Homo sapiens: one gene and its partners. The protein of the gene in region 1 interacts with the protein of each later gene in a biochemical or structural test. Each region holds a gene or a part of one and is shown in the gene's direction. Other genes may lie near its edges.

Region 1 (4,537 bases):
ACCAGCAGGCTTCTCCTTAAGTCTTCTGCTGGACTCTCAGAGTTCTCTTATTAAGATAACTGGGGGCAGCAGAACATTCTTTTTAGGTACTGTTGTCCATTCTCCTGAGAGTCCAGGGGGCTGTGGTCTCCTTCCTCCCCCCTTGCCCTGTCCCCAGCAAATGGCCTTTAAAGGTCTGGAGCCAGGTTACCGATGAGGAGGCCTAGGTTCCCTTCCTCTTTGCTTCTGGGAGCATCTCGAGCAGTGCAGAGTGGCTTCCCAGCCCCAGATGGCAGGATTGGGGTGGGTTTGGGATCTGCTGCCTTTGCTCAGTGTGCAGGGTTGGGGTGGAAATGGGGGACAGGCTAGGGCCTCTGCATTAGGCTGCCTTCTTAGGCAGGTGGGCTTTCACTTCCAGCTCCTCTTCCATTTTCACGATGTCCTTCTTCCTAGGCACTGCGAGGGGAGGAGAAAAGGGGCTTTGCAGAGGCCTGGGAGTATTCCCAGGAAGTGCCTGGTTGGCGAAACAACCAGGGAGCTGCTCCTGGGAGCTGGGCTGAGGCTTTGCTGGGCTGCCTCTCCCACTCACCCTTCTCCCGGCCCCCACCATGCCTTCCCCATGGGGGAGGGGCAGGGGGCTGGAGGAACACAGCTTCCCCCTGTTCTAGCAGAGAAATGCTGGCTGTATGCCTCCCCTAGGGTTCCCAGGCTGACTAGGGTGTGGCTGGCCTTCTGATGGAGCCCACTCATGCTGGGCCGCTGCCCAGGGGCTTTGTGGCACCTAGGTCGAGATGGTACTCAGGCCAGGGGTCAGGATTCCTGGGTGCTCTGGTCCCGGTGCCTCTGTCTCATCTTTAGGCTGGGATTCCTGCCACCTTGCTGCTCTGGGGCCCAAATACTTTGAGACAAGGCTATAGGCTTGTCCCACTGACTCTCCTTTCCCTCCCTGGGGTCTCCTCTCTCTCCAGAGATGCCCTGTATCCAAGCCCAATATGGGACACCAGCACCGAGTCCGGGACCCCGTGACCACCTGGCAAGCGACCCCCTGACCCCTGAGTTCATCAAGCCCACCATGGACCTGGCCAGCCCCGAGGCAGCCCCCGCTGCCCCCACTGCCCTGCCCAGCTTCAGCACCTTCATGGACGGCTACACAGGAGAGTTTGACACCTTCCTCTACCAGCTGCCAGGAACAGTCCAGCCATGCTCCTCAGCCTCCTCCTCGGCCTCCTCCACATCCTCGTCCTCAGCCACCTCCCCTGCCTCTGCCTCCTTCAAGTTCGAGGACTTCCAGGTGTACGGCTGCTACCCCGGCCCCCTGAGCGGCCCAGTGGATGAGGCCCTGTCCTCCAGTGGCTCTGACTACTATGGCAGCCCCTGCTCGGCCCCGTCGCCCTCCACGCCCAGCTTCCAGCCGCCCCAGCTCTCTCCCTGGGATGGCTCCTTCGGCCACTTCTCGCCCAGCCAGACTTACGAAGGCCTGCGGGCATGGACAGAGCAGCTGCCCAAAGCCTCTGGGCCCCCACAGCCTCCAGCCTTCTTTTCCTTCAGTCCTCCCACCGGCCCCAGCCCCAGCCTGGCCCAGAGCCCCCTGAAGTTGTTCCCCTCACAGGCCACCCACCAGCTGGGGGAGGGAGAGAGCTATTCCATGCCTACGGCCTTCCCAGGTTTGGCACCCACTTCTCCACACCTTGAGGGCTCGGGGATACTGGATACACCCGTGACCTCAACCAAGGCCCGGAGCGGGGCCCCAGGTGGAAGTGAAGGCCGCTGTGCTGTGTGTGGGGACAACGCTTCATGCCAGCATTATGGTGTCCGCACATGTGAGGGCTGCAAGGGCTTCTTCAAGGTACCGCGCAGCCCCAGGTGGGGCCTTTTGTTGGAAATGGAGAGAGGCTGGCCTCATCCCATTGGGACCTGTGGTCTCCCCCTGGGTTCTCCTCCTAGCTAAGTCCTGTCCTGCAGGGTGGGATCAGCCCTGCCAGGTGGGCCGCCTTCCTGGAGACCCGTAGATGCCAGGGCTGGAAGCTTTCATTTGCCGGGACACTCGGGCCCATGGGATTGCACAGAGCTGGAGGGAGGGGTGAGATAGGGGCAGATAGGAGCTGCAGGGGTGCCTGGCGAGCCTCTGGTTTTCCTCTGCTCCTCTGCCTGTCCTCTCCCAACTCAAGGTTCTAGTGGGAAGGGGTGCCCCCAGGCTCTCATGTTCCTGGCGTGAGATGAAAGGATCCCTGCGGAGGGTTTGGTTCTTGAGGGCTGGGGGTGGACTTGGGAACAGGCTGTGTGTTTGTCCCAGCGATGGTGCCTGCTTAGCTTCCCGTCCCCACCCCCCAGCCCCTTGGCCCTCTCCTGTCTGCCCTAGGGAGAAGGCAGGTGGACAAGGGCCCATGAAAAAATACAGGTGTCTAGACTGCCAGGGAGACCCTGGCCCCCAGTAGTGTGTCCTGGGGACTTCCTCAGAGCGAGAAACCTCCCCCAATGTCTTCAAGACTTTTCTCTCCCCCCGCCCAACCCCGTCTCTCCCTCCCTTGCCACCCAAATGTTAGAAAAATAGCTGTGAACAGAGAGCGCTTTTGTCTGCAATGGCAGCAGGATCTGGACGGTCCCCTCCCCTAAGTTCCCCCCTCCCCACCCCACACTCTGACAGCTTGTTCCGTGTTGCCCCCCCACCCAGCGCACAGTGCAGAAAAACGCCAAGTACATCTGCCTGGCTAACAAGGACTGCCCTGTGGACAAGAGGCGGCGAAACCGCTGCCAGTTCTGCCGCTTCCAGAAGTGCCTGGCGGTGGGCATGGTGAAGGAAGGTGTGTGGCTGGGGTGCGGCCCAGCGGGGCAAGGGTAGGCTTGAGTGGAGTGGGACCAGCAGGGCCCCCAGGCTTCTGCCCTGGAGGACCCAGAGGAGGGCACGTCTTATTTCCACCCCACCTCTGAACCCCAGGCCTTGGAGGGAGGCAGCCTACACCTGCCTGGATTGTGAGGGTGGTGGCAGGGGGAGGTTCCTATAGGGTACCTTGGATCTCAGGGACTCTGGGTCCTAGGGACTCGGTGGGGCGCGTCTCAGCAGTGGTGTGCACGGCTTGGGCTGAGAGGCCCTTCCTCAGATCCCTTCCTTCCTCACCCCTACCCATTCCTTTGCAGTTGTCCGAACAGACAGCCTGAAGGGGCGGCGGGGCCGGCTACCTTCAAAACCCAAGCAGCCCCCAGATGCCTCCCCTGCCAATCTCCTCACTTCCCTGGTCCGTGCACACCTGGACTCAGGGCCCAGCACTGCCAAACTGGACTACTCCAAGGTGAGGTCCCACCCCGTGTCTGCCTTGGGGAGGTCTATGAGCACATGCAGTGCCTTTGTGCGTGTTAGGAGAGCTACCCCCTCTGGAAGGACTGAATGAGAAAGGAGGTTTAAAAAAGAAAGAAAGAAAAGCGACTCCCTCCAGTTCGACAGATCAAAGAGAGGATCCCCCTCTCGGCTGACCAGATGGGAAAATGCACCCCCTCAGGCAGGTGGCCAATTAGAAAAATATGTCCTTTTGGCAGCTGCAGCCCTGGGTTAATATGTGAGACTTGGCAAGTGAGAGCCTGGGCAGGATCTCAGATCCACTCCCACTCCCGGGATCTGGCATCCAAGTGTCTGACACAGCCATACGTGGCAGTGGGTGTAGGAGCCTGCCTGGGGTGCTGACCCCACTGGACCGTCTTCCTAGTTCCAGGAGCTGGTGCTGCCCCACTTTGGGAAGGAAGATGCTGGGGATGTACAGCAGTTCTACGACCTGCTCTCCGGTTCTCTGGAGGTCATCCGCAAGTGGGCGGAGAAGATCCCTGGCTTTGCTGAGCTGTCACCGGCTGACCAGGACCTGTTGCTGGAGTCGGCCTTCCTGGAGCTCTTCATCCTCCGCCTGGCGTACAGGTGAGAGCCACTGACTGTCTGCCCAGCCCCTTTCCCTGATACACCTGCCTGTGAACCACCCTGATCGCTCTTCGTGCCCATCTGCCTGCCAGGTCTAAGCCAGGCGAGGGCAAGCTCATCTTCTGCTCAGGCCTGGTGCTACACCGGCTGCAGTGTGCCCGTGGCTTCGGGGACTGGATTGACAGTATCCTGGCCTTCTCAAGGTCCCTGCACAGCTTGCTTGTCGATGTCCCTGCCTTCGCCTGCCTCTCTGCCCTTGTCCTCATCACCGGTGAGTGACCAGCACCACACCAGGTCCAAGGGAATGGGCGTCAGGGGGTTGACTGGTTCTCAGGAGGGCACTGTCCCAGGGAGTTTGGTGGGCCGGGATCTAGCACTTTCTGGGCCCCTGCACTGCCCCGGGCTCATGCCAGCAGTAAAGTAGGGACCATAGGAATTGCAGATGGGCTCAGCTGCATCCAGCTCTAAAGCGCAAGACAGCCTTTGGTCCCAGACTGTCAGGATCCAGACTGCAGGTGTCATGTATGTGGCCTAGGGTATTGGCTTGTTTTTAAAACCTTCCTGTCAATTATGCTGCATATAGAAAAGTACACAAATGGTAAATTTTCATAAACCGCACTTACCCAACCAGCGCCTTGGTCAAGAAAGAGCACATAA
Region 2 (4,377 bases), on another chromosome or scaffold:
ATACAAAAATTAGCTGGGCATGGTGGCACATGCCTGTAATCCCAGCTACTTGGGAGGCGGAGGCAGGAGAATAGCTTGAACCCGGGAGGTGGAGGTTGTGGTGAGCTGAGATGGTGTCACTGCACTCCAGCCTGGGTGATAGAGTGAGACTCCGTCTAAAAAAAAAAAAAAAATCAGAGCAATTATGGTAACGTATTAAGATTTAATAAATTTGCATAATAGAATGGCATTTATTATCTTTCCTGCATTCTTGAAGTAATTTACAATATCAAAAATTATAGAAGTTGGAGTCATTTTGTAAGCCGTTTTGACTGGCCTGTTCTCATTGTAACCAACCACATTTAACCAACCATAAATTAAATTTAAAGAAAATCATATTATATAGTCAGTATTAGGATTCTGAAAGCCAGCTCTCTGTTCAGATTTTGTTTTTTGTTTTTTGTTTTTTTGTTTTTTTGTTTTTTTTTGAGACAGAGTCTCACTCTGTCGCCCAGGCTAGAGTGCAGTGGCGTGATCTTGGCTCACTGCAAGCTCCGCCTCCCGGGTTCACGCCATTCTCCCGCCTCAGCCTCCGGAGTAGCTGGGGCTACAGGTGCCTGCCACCACGCCCGGCTAATTTGTGTGTGTGTGTGTGTGTGTGTGTGTGTGTGTGTGTGTGTATTTTTAGTAGAGACAGGGTTTCACCATGTTAGCCGGGATGGTCTCGATCTCCTGATCTCGTGATCTACCCGCCTCGGCCTCCCAAAGTGCTGGGATTACAGGCGTGAGCCACTGCGCCTGGCCCTTCTGTATTTATTTTATTGTGTCCAAAAGGATAGAAGTAATGTGTTTACATAGAATTATTCAGCAAATCTTTTGAGTAGAATTTATATGCTTTTTTTTTTTTTGAGGGAGTCTACCAGGCTGGAGTGCGGTGGTGCGATCTTGGCTCACTGCAACTTCCGCCTCCCAGGTTCAAGTGATTCCCTTGCCTTAGCCTCTCAAGTAGCTGGGACTACAGGTGTGCACCATCACACCCAGCTAATTTTTTTGTATTTTAGTAGAGGCGGAGTTTCACTGTGTTGGCCAGGATGGTCTCGATCTCCTGACCTCATGATCCACCCACCTTGACCTCCCAAAGTGCTGGGATTACAGGCGTGAGCCACTGCACCCAGCCTCGTATGCATTCTTTATCCTACCTTTTCTTGATGGAAGTACAAGGTTAAGGATTTATTTAGGCTTTAGGCTATCTAGTGGAGCTAAATAATTATGGATTTGTACATTGAGTGCCCACGATGTACTAGGTGGATCTTTGAGGCAACACAACGAACATGCAGGGTCTCTGTTGGCATAGTCCACTGTCTATTTGGATCCATTAGCATTTTAGGAAATAGTTGCAAAAAAATATATGTTGTAATAGATATAGAAGACACATGTTGAGCGTCATAGACTTGGAAGGGATCCAGTTACTTGTCTTTGGAGAAAGTGAGAAATGTATATGACTGTTTCATGAATTCAGTTTACAGATTTTTGCTTGAAGTTTTTTTGTGTGTTTTTGAATTTCTTATTACAGCGCAGCTTATGATGCCATTCTTGAAAGAAATGTTGCAATCAAGAAGCTAAGCCGACCATTTCAGAATCAGACTCATGCCAAGCGGGCCTACAGAGAGCTAGTTCTTATGAAATGTGTTAATCACAAAAATGTAAGTGAACATTTTTGGTTTCCTAAGTATAGATGAAATCAAGATTTATTCATGAATATGTGAATATCAAAGACTAAATATTAGGGGCTTTAAATTGTTCTGTATTAAAACATTGTTTAAAAGGGATATATATATATATATATATATCTACAGGGTGATTTTCCTCAACTTTATTAAATTGTATCAGAAGAATGGCTTCTAAAATTTAGATTATATGATTTCCTGTCATTTAATTTACAAAAGGAGTTTTAAAAAGATAAGCGTTTGAGAAGAATTTTATTCAGCTTGATCTCATCTTCTGCTTTTTGTTCTCCGTCAGGCTGACATTTAGAAAACTGTAGCATTAGCACAGAGATGAAATTGTTCCCATTATGCTTTGACACTCTGACTTTAATCATATTGAATATAAAATTTATATCACTTCTCCCTACCCCACTCCCACCTCTTTAAGTGATGGCAGTATTCACTGATCACTTTATGATGAGGATAGTGGGTTTAGCAGAAAGTGTTTGAAACTATCTAGAGGGTATTAACATGTTTCTAATTCTATTTTCTAATGATTGCAAAGATAAGTCTTTATAAAGATATATAAGTTGCACTCATTTTGAGAATAAACAGTTATACTTTTTTAAACTTACATTAAGCTTATTCATACTTTTGTGATTGTTCTAATGGAATGATTTCTTCAGTTGAGGAAATAAACTAGGAGTGAATTGTGTAAGGGACACTTTTAGGCAGTCCTAAACCGAAGGCATCTGACTAAAGACATTTCGTAGTGTTTGTCCAAAAGAGTTTATATAATATAATGAGCACAGTACCTTCTGACTACAGATAATACAATTTACCACATTTTGAGATCTAAATATGTGCAGGCCTCTGTGTATTGGAGTTACTGGGTTCATTATCAAGGGAAAAAAAAATCATGGAAGTTCAGGATTAGGCCCTTTATTTGGGGAGCTTACAATGGTGTTTTGAATACAAAACAGACATACAGAGAGTTAAATATCAAACATCACAAAGCAGTGGCCGTTTGTCAAATGATGATGGTGGCCCATATATTGAAATCTAAAAAGAGGGACGATTTCTGTGAGCTTTAATTAACTGGGAAGGCTTTGGGGAGGAGTAGACCTAGGCTGACTCTTAAAGATGGGGTAAAAATTGGATTGTTGAAGGAAAGGAGCCTTCAGAGAGGAAGAATGACGTAAAAAAGGTCCAGAGACAAAGATTAAACTTAGATAATAATAGGGAGGAAGTTGTGGTAGCCATTCTTGTTCCAAGCGGGAACTTGATGTGTTGCTCATCACAGTTTTGCTGGTGGCATCCTGTCCATGGATAGAGCTGCTCGTGCCCCTTGTGGCCTGTGAACGCAGTTCCATGGCAGTGGTGGTGTTGCCTTAGTTTTTCCTTGGGGAGGAGTTCAGTTAATCCTACCTCTCAAGCCTGGGTGACTGCAAAGAAAGGTGGTTCCTTCAACTGCATGGAGTATGACTAAGCATGTCTCACATGATTAGGCCTCTAGCAGGGGTGGCAGAGGTTTATCCAGGCAGAACTCTCAGCACCTAGAAGAGTGTGGACAAGAGTAGGTACTCAGAATATATTTGTTCAGTGAGTGAGTATAAAGCTAAATATGGGAAAACTGGAAATGGTAACTGAATTATTCCACTCACCCATGGATGGATGTTTTTGTAGTGTTTTGCCTTTTAAACAATTTCATCCTCTGTACAGATTGTCTCTTCACTGGTCTAAGCATCTCTGGTTTTTCTCATTCTTTTCATAGATGGTCTTGAGTTTCTTTTTTAATCTTGGCCGTTTATCTCTGAACACACTTTGAAAGTGACCTAGCACACACTACTGCATAAGCCACCTAGCACACAGTACTGCACGTCTGATCAAATCCTCTGAGAGGAGCTGAGGCATGTCATCTCTTAACTGTAGACATTAAAACCCTGTTTAGAAATTTCGTCCCCATCTGACTCCCGTTGTCTTTCTTTGTTACAGGCCTGCCTTACAGTTCCCATCTCACCCAGTCTTTATATTTTTTCTTTTGATTATGGAGAATTAAGTATAGTACTTCATGTTTCTCCCTATTAAATTTCAAAGGTGAAATGTGGTTGCTCTTCCTGGTCTACTAGTGATTGCTGTGATTGCTTTTTTCTTCCTTGTTCTGACTTTTCACTTGTGGGCTTCACTTCCCAGTTTTGCTCAGGATATCTTTGTAATAGCTGGATTAATTCATTAGCAACTTTTGAGCATATTGCAGAAATTACGTGTCTAACTATCACAGTTATCCAGCTGTTTCCAATTCATCATCTTATTCACATGGATGTTATTATTAGAAACATTTTGTAAAATGCCATTTTGAAATCTTCATATACTGTGTCTGGTTGCATTTTTCTGATTTATTGCTATTGTTCTTTGTTGTTTTTATTCATGGAAGGAAATAGTATTTCTCAATGAACTTTTACCTGCTCTTGGTAATTGTTACTTCTTTTGAAGTAGTTATATACCACTACTAATCATTGACTTTTGCTTGGCTGTCCAGTCTATAACTGATATAATTTCCTTTATTTCCCTTTTTGAAAAATGGGACAACTATCTGTTTGAATCTCTTTTATAACAGCTTTATTGAAATATAATTTCTGTGTCATGCAATTCACCCATTTGAAGTATACCATTCAGTGGTTTTTAGTATATT
Region 3 (5,148 bases), on another chromosome or scaffold:
CCTAAATAATAATTAAAAAGTGCCTTATGATTGTAAAATTACCCTAAGAAGAAATTCTTTTAAAATACAGTAGCTTTTGGCATTTTACATAAACTTTAGCCTAAGATTAAAACAACCATTAAAATTATTGTACAAAAATTTTAAATAAAATAATTTAAATACTTTTCAAATTTATTTTAAATTCTAAAACTTTCCATTGATTTAGATCCAAAAAAACCCTACAGATATTTCACTAGAAAAAAATACAGTGACACATTAGGATAGAGACATTTCATTGTGTGAAAGGTTTTGAGGACGTTATCATTCTTTATCATTATATACTTCATGAAATTTTTTTCAGTTCAATTTTTTGTATAAAATCATTCTTAAAACCCACCTCATGCAACAGACCTTCCTACATCATGTGAAAAGGATGAGGCCTTTTTCTTCTCAGAATTTCTATTTAGCAATTACTTTTCACCACAGATTAACAATGACTTCAAGATAATAAACGTTTACAAATTATGAGACAGACGCATTGAAGACTGCAAGCCCCAAAAAGAAAGACATTGTATTGTGAATACACTGTATGATATATGGGCACAATTACAGAAACCATTTTATCTATTAAGGACCTAAAAGAAAAATCAAGTAACTCTTACTTTTCTAAAGACAATTTAAAGCAAATCAATTCCTGTCTTGGTCAACTCATGTTAAGAAAACATTTACTAGCAAAGTACTTTGTCAATACTCATCACTTCTCTAGAATATTTAATTAATACTGCACAGAAGCCTGAACTTTTAAAAGGTAAACAAATGTGATTTTAAAAAGACATAACTATGACAGTAACAGTATTTTGTTTTCTTAAACCAAATACTTTTTTACCATATCCCCAAAATATTCTTAAAATTCATTTTCAAGAACTATTCGTACTTGACTACTTAAAATCTACATTCTTCCAGTGACATGAAAGAAGGAAACAAAGGCTTAACAGGAAAATAACAAAAGTAACTAACATAGGAAGGTAAAACTGCTAAGGGAGAAACACAGACAAACTGATAGAAAATGAGTAGCTTGAACTAAAATACAAGAAAGGTATAACTAGAGTTTGCAATATGTTTAGACTGAGTCTGAGATGAGGGTTCAAGTGAATAAGTACAGGAAACGTGGCATTTTGTTATATGGCTCACTCCATTCTGGAAAATGTTAGGCACAAATGATAATATGCTCCCTAAGTAATAAGATCTTATAAATAAAGCAGTGGAAGTGGTCCTTAATTAGGGGGGTGGCACCTACCTGGGATCACTGGAAAATATGGAGGGCATTTCTGGTTGTCACTATGACTGATGAGGGGAGATGTACAACTGCCATTTAGTGTCCATGGAACAGGTTTGCTAACATCCTCTTAGTATGCTAGACAGCGTTTGCAAACAGAAACTGTAAAGGCACATATGCACTCCAGAAGGGTAAGAAAATAATGAGGCTGAGATCCTGAGTTGGACCACCGAGATGAAAGACTTCTGGTGAGGCTAAAAACATGTAGAAAAAGCGATGAAAGCCAAAAACCTTAAAAGGTGGAGAAAAGTGTAGAGGCGAGAAGTGAGTTACAGGGGGAGAAGTGAGTTAGAATGACAAGCTGTGAATCCCTTTCCCTGCAATGACAAAAATACGTAATCACTCTGCCTGGGAGGTTTTTTCCTGCGCCACCACCCGTCAACGTCCACTACTGGGGAAAAACGTAAGCCTCTTTGCTCAAAGAGTTTCCACCCAAAAAGTGGCTATGGTTTCTCTGTAACTACATGTGAAAAATAAACTCCTTGCCTGGGGCAACTAGATGTGGAGATGGTTCAGTCTCCCACCTCCGTTTTCCCTCGCTGGAGTCGAACTTGCTCCTCCTGTTTCCCGAAGGACACCGAGAGGTCCCACCCGTACGGGCTGCCGCGAGTGCCTCTCTGGCCGCTACATTCAACTAAATGGGTGGGACAGTCACCTGGCGAGGGGGGGCAGGGACCGTCACCGCTTTCTCATTCCTCCTTCCCTCCTCCCAGGCACAGCAGCCCGGCCCAGCTTCCTGTGGCAGAAAAACCCTCAGTCGCCAAAAGAAAGCCGTCTTGAGGGTTCCCCCGCGCTCCCACCCGCGCCCCAAAAGCTCAGGTCTCTGGAGTCGGAGACCCTCCTGCCCACCTGCTCTTTACTGTCCTTCCCTCTCCTCGCACCTCAGCACCATTCACCCCTCACCCTCTCCCGAAACTACGGGGTCCCAGGTCTTCAAAGGCCTTAGCTTTCCACCCCGCCGTTACCGTGGCTATGAAATCGCTTCCGGGTTCACACCCTTTGCAGCCTCGCGGTTGGCGGTGAAAGAGCTTCCGGGTCGGCGGCCGGGCTGCTGCCGTTCCTGCTCCTTTTCACTGGACCTGCAGTCTCTCAGGGGCTGGTGGCAGGCGACTAGGAGACTAGGGTGGTGGCGGTGGGGGTGCCAGCGGCTGAGCCGGAGCCGGAGCCGGAGGCGGGGGAGGGGAAGAGGGCGGCCGGGGCTGCGAGCGCGCAAGGCTGGAACATGAGCCGGGCTTGACCGCGAGGCGGAGGCAAGAGCCACCGCCCCCTCTTCCCCTCCCCCGAGTGAGGCGGCGCAGCGGCCGGAGAGGGATGGGGGGCGCCCACCCAGTCTGAGCCTCGCCGCGGGCGCCTTCGGCTCACGCAGCGCTTCCCGCGGGCCGCCAGTGCGCACCCTCGGCCACATCAGCCTCCGCCTGGCGGGTGCACCCGGGCCGGCGAGGAAGGGGCAACCGTCCGGGTGGGTGGGGCGGGCTGGGTACCTGAGGTCACCAGCTCGGCTGTAGAGGCAGGGGCGGCGGAGGCGGAACTGCGGAGTTGCTGGGTCCACCGACCCTTACCCTCAGCGAGAGAAGTAACCGTAAGTCTCAGCTTCGCGGTACAGATGTGTTTGAGGCTGCCTCTACCCATTTGTGGCTCCGAGTTCAGAGCTACCTACTTCACACCCTCCCGGATCTACTAGGAGTGTGTCTGTCGCCTGTTTTGGAGCATTGTTGTTCTGTCTGTCCCCATCCCTGAACAGGCAGCATTCTCTGCCCTACAGGGCTTTTCTCCCAGCGAATTTGCAAGCCTCCGGGTCTCCGTGACGCGTCCCATCCTCCCCATCTGGATGCATCTCCTTGTCCCTCTGTCCTCAAAGGATCTGTGTCCTTCCTCGCAGCCTCCCCCCCACCCCCATCCTTTGAGACGTGGAAAGCCACGGGTTCTGCCGACCTCGGGGGCTAGAGAGAGTCTTGAGAAGCGGATGGGTAAAAGTGCTCTGCAGGGCTGTGATGGGTGGGGATAGGTGCAGATGGCTCCAGTGAACCTTTATTTTTGCAGCTTCTGCCACCAAAACAAAAGAATGGAGCGCTCCCCTGTATTCTTATTCTTCTCCGTATGTATGAGCTGTTTTTCTGTACGTAGCTGTTTGAGTCGCAGGAAATTGAAACTAGAGCTGTAATAAAGCATCTCCTGAGGAGATTTTGAGAATTAGTCTCCCAAGCTCTATTCACACGGAATGGCATATCGAACAATCTTGTATTGGAATGACCATTTCAGAAGAGCTTTACTGGTAGATCTGACAGATAAATGTAAAGATAAGAGTCTGCTGTTTCAAATAGTGTATTTTAGATACCTTTAAATTTTAGTGTTCTAATTTTCATCTAGTTCTTAATTTGTGAAGTATGTGGGTATGTGTAAGGTGTAAAAATCTGTGTATTGGAAGGTTTTGCTTTGTTACAAGCTTTTGCTTTGTTGCTTTTGAGACAGACGTTTAAAGATCATATTAGATTGTATTTGATAATTATTTTCAATCATTAATTCCAGAGAAATCTTTTTTTGTATCAGCCACTCACAGATGTTACACACCTTGGTGCCTATGACCCTCCTGCTGCTTAAACTGTGAATGTCTTCAAAGTATATTTTCAGATTTTTGAACTAGGCGTTTTTTCTCATTAGAATTTGATTTGCTTTTCAAACTGCTCCTGCAGAACTTTCCAGAAATTAGATTTAAAAATAATTTTAATGCTGTCAGTGATTGGACAATAGCTCTTATATGACTTTATGCATTTGCTACTTTTCAGAGCACCATAGGAAGCAAACGATAATTTAAGAATAATTTTACTGTGTACTGCAGGTTGTCATTCTGCAAACTACTGTGTAGTGTAGACTGGTAGCTTTGGTGTTTTGTGTTGCTGAAAAACATTGTCATTTCATTAAGAAAGATGGATGTGTTTAATGACTTTTCCCCCCAACCTCCTTTCAGCAGTTGATTTTGGGCTATTATCTGATTTGTAACTTCTCACTGTTCACAGATTTTAATTTGAAGTAGGCTCAGGAGATGTAGCTCCAACTCTGTCTCTGGAAATGTACTTAGCACAGAAGCCAAGCACTGTGCAGAGTTGAGTGTATTATTAAGGGTGTGGCTTTTGCTTTCTGTAAAATTGTTCAGTTTCTGAATAAGAGTAGGGTGCTATAGTGAGGTGATGGGCGCTATCTTGGAGAAGTCTTAGAAAAAATGTTGTTGATTCTCTTTTCCTTGGGGTAGGATGGGGAAGATAGAACTATATTTTCCTATTTCACTGTTCCCTTGACCACTACACCGAGAATTTTGAGTTTTCAATATGTAAGGAGTCTGAAACTGTGCCAACTGTGCTGTAAACAAGGGCTCTAACAGGTAGGTGACTCCTGAAACATGGGAGGGAAGTTTTGTTAGCCACTCTTTTGTACTCCTGTGGCACTGCCCACTTCTCAAAGAGTGGGTTTTCTTTCCTCTTTCTTTTCTGGGGTATGCACTCAAACTTGTGAAAGTGAAATATGTGTATTTACAACTTGCTTGTAGATAAAAGTGCGAGCTCATTTTCATATATAAGTAGATGGAAGAACTATGAATTAAGTTAATCTGAATGTCCTTGAAATGAAGTTGGAAAAGATTCCTCAGTGCTTTGGGTAATTTTTCCCCCATTGAGGATGCATATGACATTTATTTAGATTAAGTTTTAAAATATTTCCTTCAAATATTTGACACATTTGCCAAAAAGGATTTGGGAGTGGACTAAGTCATTATTAAAGAGACCAGTCTGTGGGAGTTTTTATACATTGATCTAAAAATGTTTAGGTTTTTAATTTACTTT
Region 4 (4,377 bases), on another chromosome or scaffold:
TCCTGGAGTGTCTGTTTGGGTCTCTTGTGAGGAAGTTCTTTTGGAGCAACAAAGTTTGATCATTTGGAATGGAATAAAAAACTCACACAGGACCTACCTAGTCCAACTTCTTTCCATTTTACAGATGGAAAATGAGGCACAGGGATGGGGAGGGATGTGCCCAGGCCGAACTGAGCTGGAGCTCAGCTTTGTGAGAGGCTCCTGGGTGGGACTGAAGGCAGTGGAAAGGGTTCCTGGCAGGATTTTGCCTGCCTGCTATGGAGGGGCGAAAGGAAATTGCATCTTCATTGAATTTCTGGTGAGGAAACTTTTGAGGCCAAAGGGGCAGAGCGGAATGATTTTTTTTAAGTGTAAATCAGGTGTTCTTGAGAGATTAGCAAAGCCAGCCTGAAGGGCAGGGGCTTAGAGGCTGCAGCCCCCTGAGTTGGCCTTTGACTGAATGGGGCTGCCCCCCCCCCATGACAGAAGACAGATCTCAACTGAGCTGAGGGCCCCCCTGGGTTACGTTGAAATCCGCTGGCCTGAACTTGCCTCCTCATGGACCTGAAAGAAAGATAGCATTGTGTTTTTCGGGTGGCCCAAAGCTGCAGTTCTTCCTTGGGACCCAACCCCAGAGAATCCCATTCCAGATGTGACTCAGAGGCCTTGTCCTGGGAGAGAAAGCGTGATGACTCAGCATCTGAGACTCAAGCAGGGTTCAGGTTTGACTCAGCCTGGAAGGAAGGCCAGGGAGGGACACGACATCTCTCTCCCTCCAGAGCAGCCACTGTCTCCCTCCATCTGCCTTCATCCTCGCAAGAACGTTGCCTGGATCGTATTGCTCCATTGAATGGATGAGGCAACTGAGGCCAGGAGAGTTTCAGGATTTGCCTGTTGCCATATGGCTCAGGTGGGAGAGCCAGACTTTGAACCCGGACAGTTGGACTTCAGAGCCTTTGTTTTTTTTCCATGACAACATGTTGGGGCGCCTGAAGAAATCAGGCTCAAATGAAAAGGCAGTCAGGAGCTCCATGCCTCAGTTTGCTTTTCTGTAAAATGAGAGTAACAGACATGATGCCATCAGAATGTGTAAATATTAATCTGTGTAACCTGAGAACAGCACTGAGCATGTGGAAAACAGCGTGTAGGTGTTTGCCGTCAGTAGCACCCGCAGAAGACATTCTCAAGGCATCTTCTTGGCAGGCAGAGTCTGGGACCCTTTGTCCTAAACCTACCCAAGGCTGTGAAAGTGCCTGCAAATGCTTGACCTAGGTATTGCTTTTTGCTAAGCTTATGTAGGTTGCATAATAGTGTCATGAAAATCTTGTCTGAAATGCACATTTCCAGGCCCGGTCTCCTGCGATTCTCTCTCCATCAGGGGATATGCTGTTGTTTCAAAGCTCCTTTGGCTGGGTTGGGAATGGGGTATCCTGCAGGCAGACAGAGTTGAGAACCTCTGCTCTGGAATGACAGGGGAGAGAAGAAGGAAGGTGTAGTCATACATGCCGCTGTACCTTCAGGCCACCCTGTGTCCACAGTGCCAGGGAATTAGTGAGTGCTCAGTAAATAGCTCTTGTTTGCTATAGTGCCTTGGAGGTTCAATGCATCACATCAGCTAACTGAGGTAGAAGACATTCTTTCCACCTCTCAGGTCAGAAAATTGAGGCTCAGGCTGGTGACTCTTCTGTCCAGAGTCCAGTGAGTGGGGTTCTGCCCAAGGTGAGCCTCCTGAGCCCTTTCCACCCTCCAACATTGCGCTTGGAGGCCACCCACACCCTCTGGGCCCACCTTTTGAGAAGGAGCTTGTTTCCTGGATCCACCCCAGGCTGTTGTTCCTGCCTCCCTTGATGGCTGTGTGATGGAAGTACCGCGTGTCCACTTGCTTTTTATCTTTCAACTTGGAGATAGAGGCAGGCTAGATAGCGGTCTTGGCTGAGAACTTAGCCCAGGCAGGTAGGCAGAAGGGCTGGGGACACTGAGGCCCCACAGGAAGGCGGCTGCAGAGGTAGAGGGCCATGAGTAGGTGCCAACCTGGAGCCGTGTTCTCGGGGTGGGGGCCATGTGAAAAGAAACCTGGGCTCCCTCGGGTGGGGCGTAAGCCCCAGCACTACAGAATGGGAATGGATTACACAATCGGGGCCATAAGCAGGTCTCTTTGACCCAGATCTTTGACTTTCCCACCTAACATTGTTTGCAGACCTGCCTATGCCCTACCTGCCTGGGCTCCATCTCTGACCTTTTGAGTCCAGCGGGTTTTCTTGCAACTGAGCTGGTAGAAAGTGAGGCTCCTTAACAGTCTGGGGGCCTTGAGTGCCCTCCCCAGCAGTTTAATCTTTCCTTTCTTTAAATCTGTGGGGAGACTTTCTGCAGCTATACATTTTAAATCTGCATAGAGTTCTGTTTGAAGAGAGGTGGGTGGGGGCCCAGGTCTCCACCTTGTTCTCCTGCCTTCACCCTCTGCCCCACCCCCACGGAACCTAAGAAGATTCCAAGTAACCCTCTTCAAATATGGATGTGAGAGGGCCATTTAAGAGGTGGGTCTATGGCCTCTCTCAGCTGGGAATGCTTACCATCTCTCCTTCCTCCTTTTTAATCATGGAACTCTCCTCCTTTCTCCAGAAAGGCCTCCTTGGCTGTCCTCTGCTGGAGGGGAGGCTGGGTTGGGTCCTTCCTGGGACCTGTCCATGTCTCCCATGAAACCTGAGAGCCTGTCCTTAGTAGGTGTTGTGTTAGTGGTGGTGGAAAGGACATCTCCACTGATTAAGGAAGTAACTTGGACCATCTTGCATAGACAAGATCGGAGGCCCATTCCGGAGGGTGGAAACTGCAAGACCATTCTGGGGAAGGATCCTGTTAGCGTGGCTAGCATCCCATCTCGGGACAAAGGGTTCTGTATGAGGAAGCCATTTCCTCGTCCTCTGCTAACACTGGCTCCGTTTGTGTGATTTCCACAAATTATCTCAGACCATCCAGCGCAGCTCATGCCTGTCTTGCAATTTCACAAAATAATCCTCTAAGGAGACCAGTGTCCTCCTTTGGACTTCCAGTTATTCACCTCGTCCCCTCAGACGGTCGTCTTCTGTCTGCCAAACAAATTACTCGTGCTGCCAAAACTCCACTGAGAATCTCCAGGAAGATCTCGGTTGTATTGCAGAAAAGAGGTGGGCCCTGACGAGATTCCTGACACCTCCCTCTTCCTGCTGTTGTGTTTGGGACACTCTTGCTGACCTCCCTGGTGCTGTGCTCAAGTTGAACACACAGCAGTTCAGTTTCAGCTCCAGCCCCTCTGGACCCACACCCAGGGAGTGAATGCGGCTTTGGCTTGTTTGAGAGGGAGACAGTGGGGTTCACCTTCTTAGTGATCCCTTTTTCATTCCTTGAATATCAAACATCACTGATGCCTCCTGGGTTTCAGGCTCCACTGCAAAGTACAGGGGCCCTCGAGGAGTTCCTACTGTGGTTTTGTTCTCTGACATTTGTACTGTTTCCTTGATTCTGATTGCTCTGATACAGTTCCCTAACCTCTAAACTAGGGAACTTTCTTGAAGGTCCAGTGAATCCACCCATATTGTTTGCTGAGTTGATTAGTTAAGAAAGACAGTTCGTGAAGACTGCCAACTTCCTCACCCTCCCCAGGGCCTTGAGTTTCAGAAGGGCCAGAAAACACCAAGAGAGCCCATGAACTGCTTTGTAGCTTGACTTCAAAATCTCTTTGGGCAAAGAAATGACAAAGGATTGTATCCACAGTAAGGCAGGGCTATCCAGGGCCTATCTCAAGGTGGTTTTCCTTGAGGTTCAGGCAGAAATGGTGCTGTTCTCGGCAATTTTCTGGGGAAGTTGCTACAGCAAACAGCCACAGCACATGTTGATTTTTTCCCTCCTTTTAAAAATCTGTTCTATAAAGAGCACAATGTGCTGGAGAGAACACTGGCTTTCATGTGGCCTTAAAACCAGGCATGTTACAGAGGGTGGAATCTGGGCCAGTTGCTGTTGGTGACAATCGATGCTACCCTTGTCAGCAATTCCCGCCTGCTCTCCCTTTATCTGCTTCACTGAAGGCCTCCAGGGGACTGTTGTCCGCCCTCCCCCGAGGGAATGAGTGCCACACCTGCACCCACAACAAACCAGTGAGTTTTTCACCTTTCCCTCAGTAGGGAGGAATCTAGACATGTGGCCTTTGGAAGTCAAGTGGGCCTTTGTGTTTGTTTTTGAGCCTCAGGTTACCCATTTGTGAACTGGGTATAATACCCAGCCTCTCCCGGGGCAACCTCCTTGAGGAGCAAGTGAAACAGTGTGCTGAGTGAATGCTTTTCCAAAGCATTGAGTTGGCCGTCTTAGGAAGGTACTATGGGGGAGCTGAAAACAGAGAACCTTCTGGGTGTTGTGAAGGGAGAAAAG

What was found.
Region 2: of the proteins of NR4A1 (region 1) and MAPK8, one has a biochemical effect on the other in vitro, tested with the Homo sapiens proteins (2 studies listed by BioGRID).
Region 3: the proteins of NR4A1 (region 1) and ANKIB1 form a complex in vitro, tested with the Homo sapiens proteins (one study listed by BioGRID).
Region 4: the proteins of NR4A1 (region 1) and NDRG1 form a complex in vitro, tested with the Homo sapiens proteins (one study listed by BioGRID).

The regions. Positions count from the first base shown.
Region 1 is NC_000012.12:52,053,380-52,057,916, forward strand, and holds part of NR4A1 (nuclear receptor subfamily 4immunitygroup A member 1), read left to right. Parts: intron 1-947; coding exon of another isoform or gene 948-949; coding exon 950-1,825; intron 1,826-2,650; coding exon 2,651-2,780; intron 2,781-3,114; coding exon 3,115-3,266; intron 3,267-3,677; coding exon 3,678-3,880; intron 3,881-3,972; coding exon 3,973-4,151; intron 4,152-4,537. UniProt on the Homo sapiens protein: Orphan nuclear receptor. Binds the NGFI-B response element (NBRE) 5'-AAAGGTCA-3'. Binds 9-cis-retinoic acid outside of its ligand-binding (NR LBD) domain.
Region 2 is NC_000010.11:48,403,300-48,407,676, forward strand, and holds part of MAPK8 (mitogen-activated protein kinase 8), read left to right. Parts: intron 1-1,552; coding exon 1,553-1,682; intron 1,683-4,377. UniProt on the Homo sapiens protein: Serine/threonine-protein kinase involved in various processes such as cell proliferation, differentiation, migration, transformation and programmed cell death.
Region 3 is NC_000007.14:92,243,626-92,248,773, forward strand, and holds the start of ANKIB1 (ankyrin repeat and IBR domain-containing protein 1), read left to right. Parts: upstream 1-2,348; 5' UTR 2,349-2,894; intron 2,895-5,148. UniProt on the Homo sapiens protein: Might act as an E3 ubiquitin-protein ligase, or as part of E3 complex, which accepts ubiquitin from specific E2 ubiquitin-conjugating enzymes and then transfers it to substrates.
Region 4 is NC_000008.11:133,290,753-133,295,129, reverse strand, and holds part of NDRG1 (protein NDRG1), read left to right. Parts: intron 1-4,377. UniProt on the Homo sapiens protein: Stress-responsive protein involved in hormone responses, cell growth, and differentiation. Acts as a tumor suppressor in many cell types. Necessary but not sufficient for p53/TP53-mediated caspase activation and apoptosis.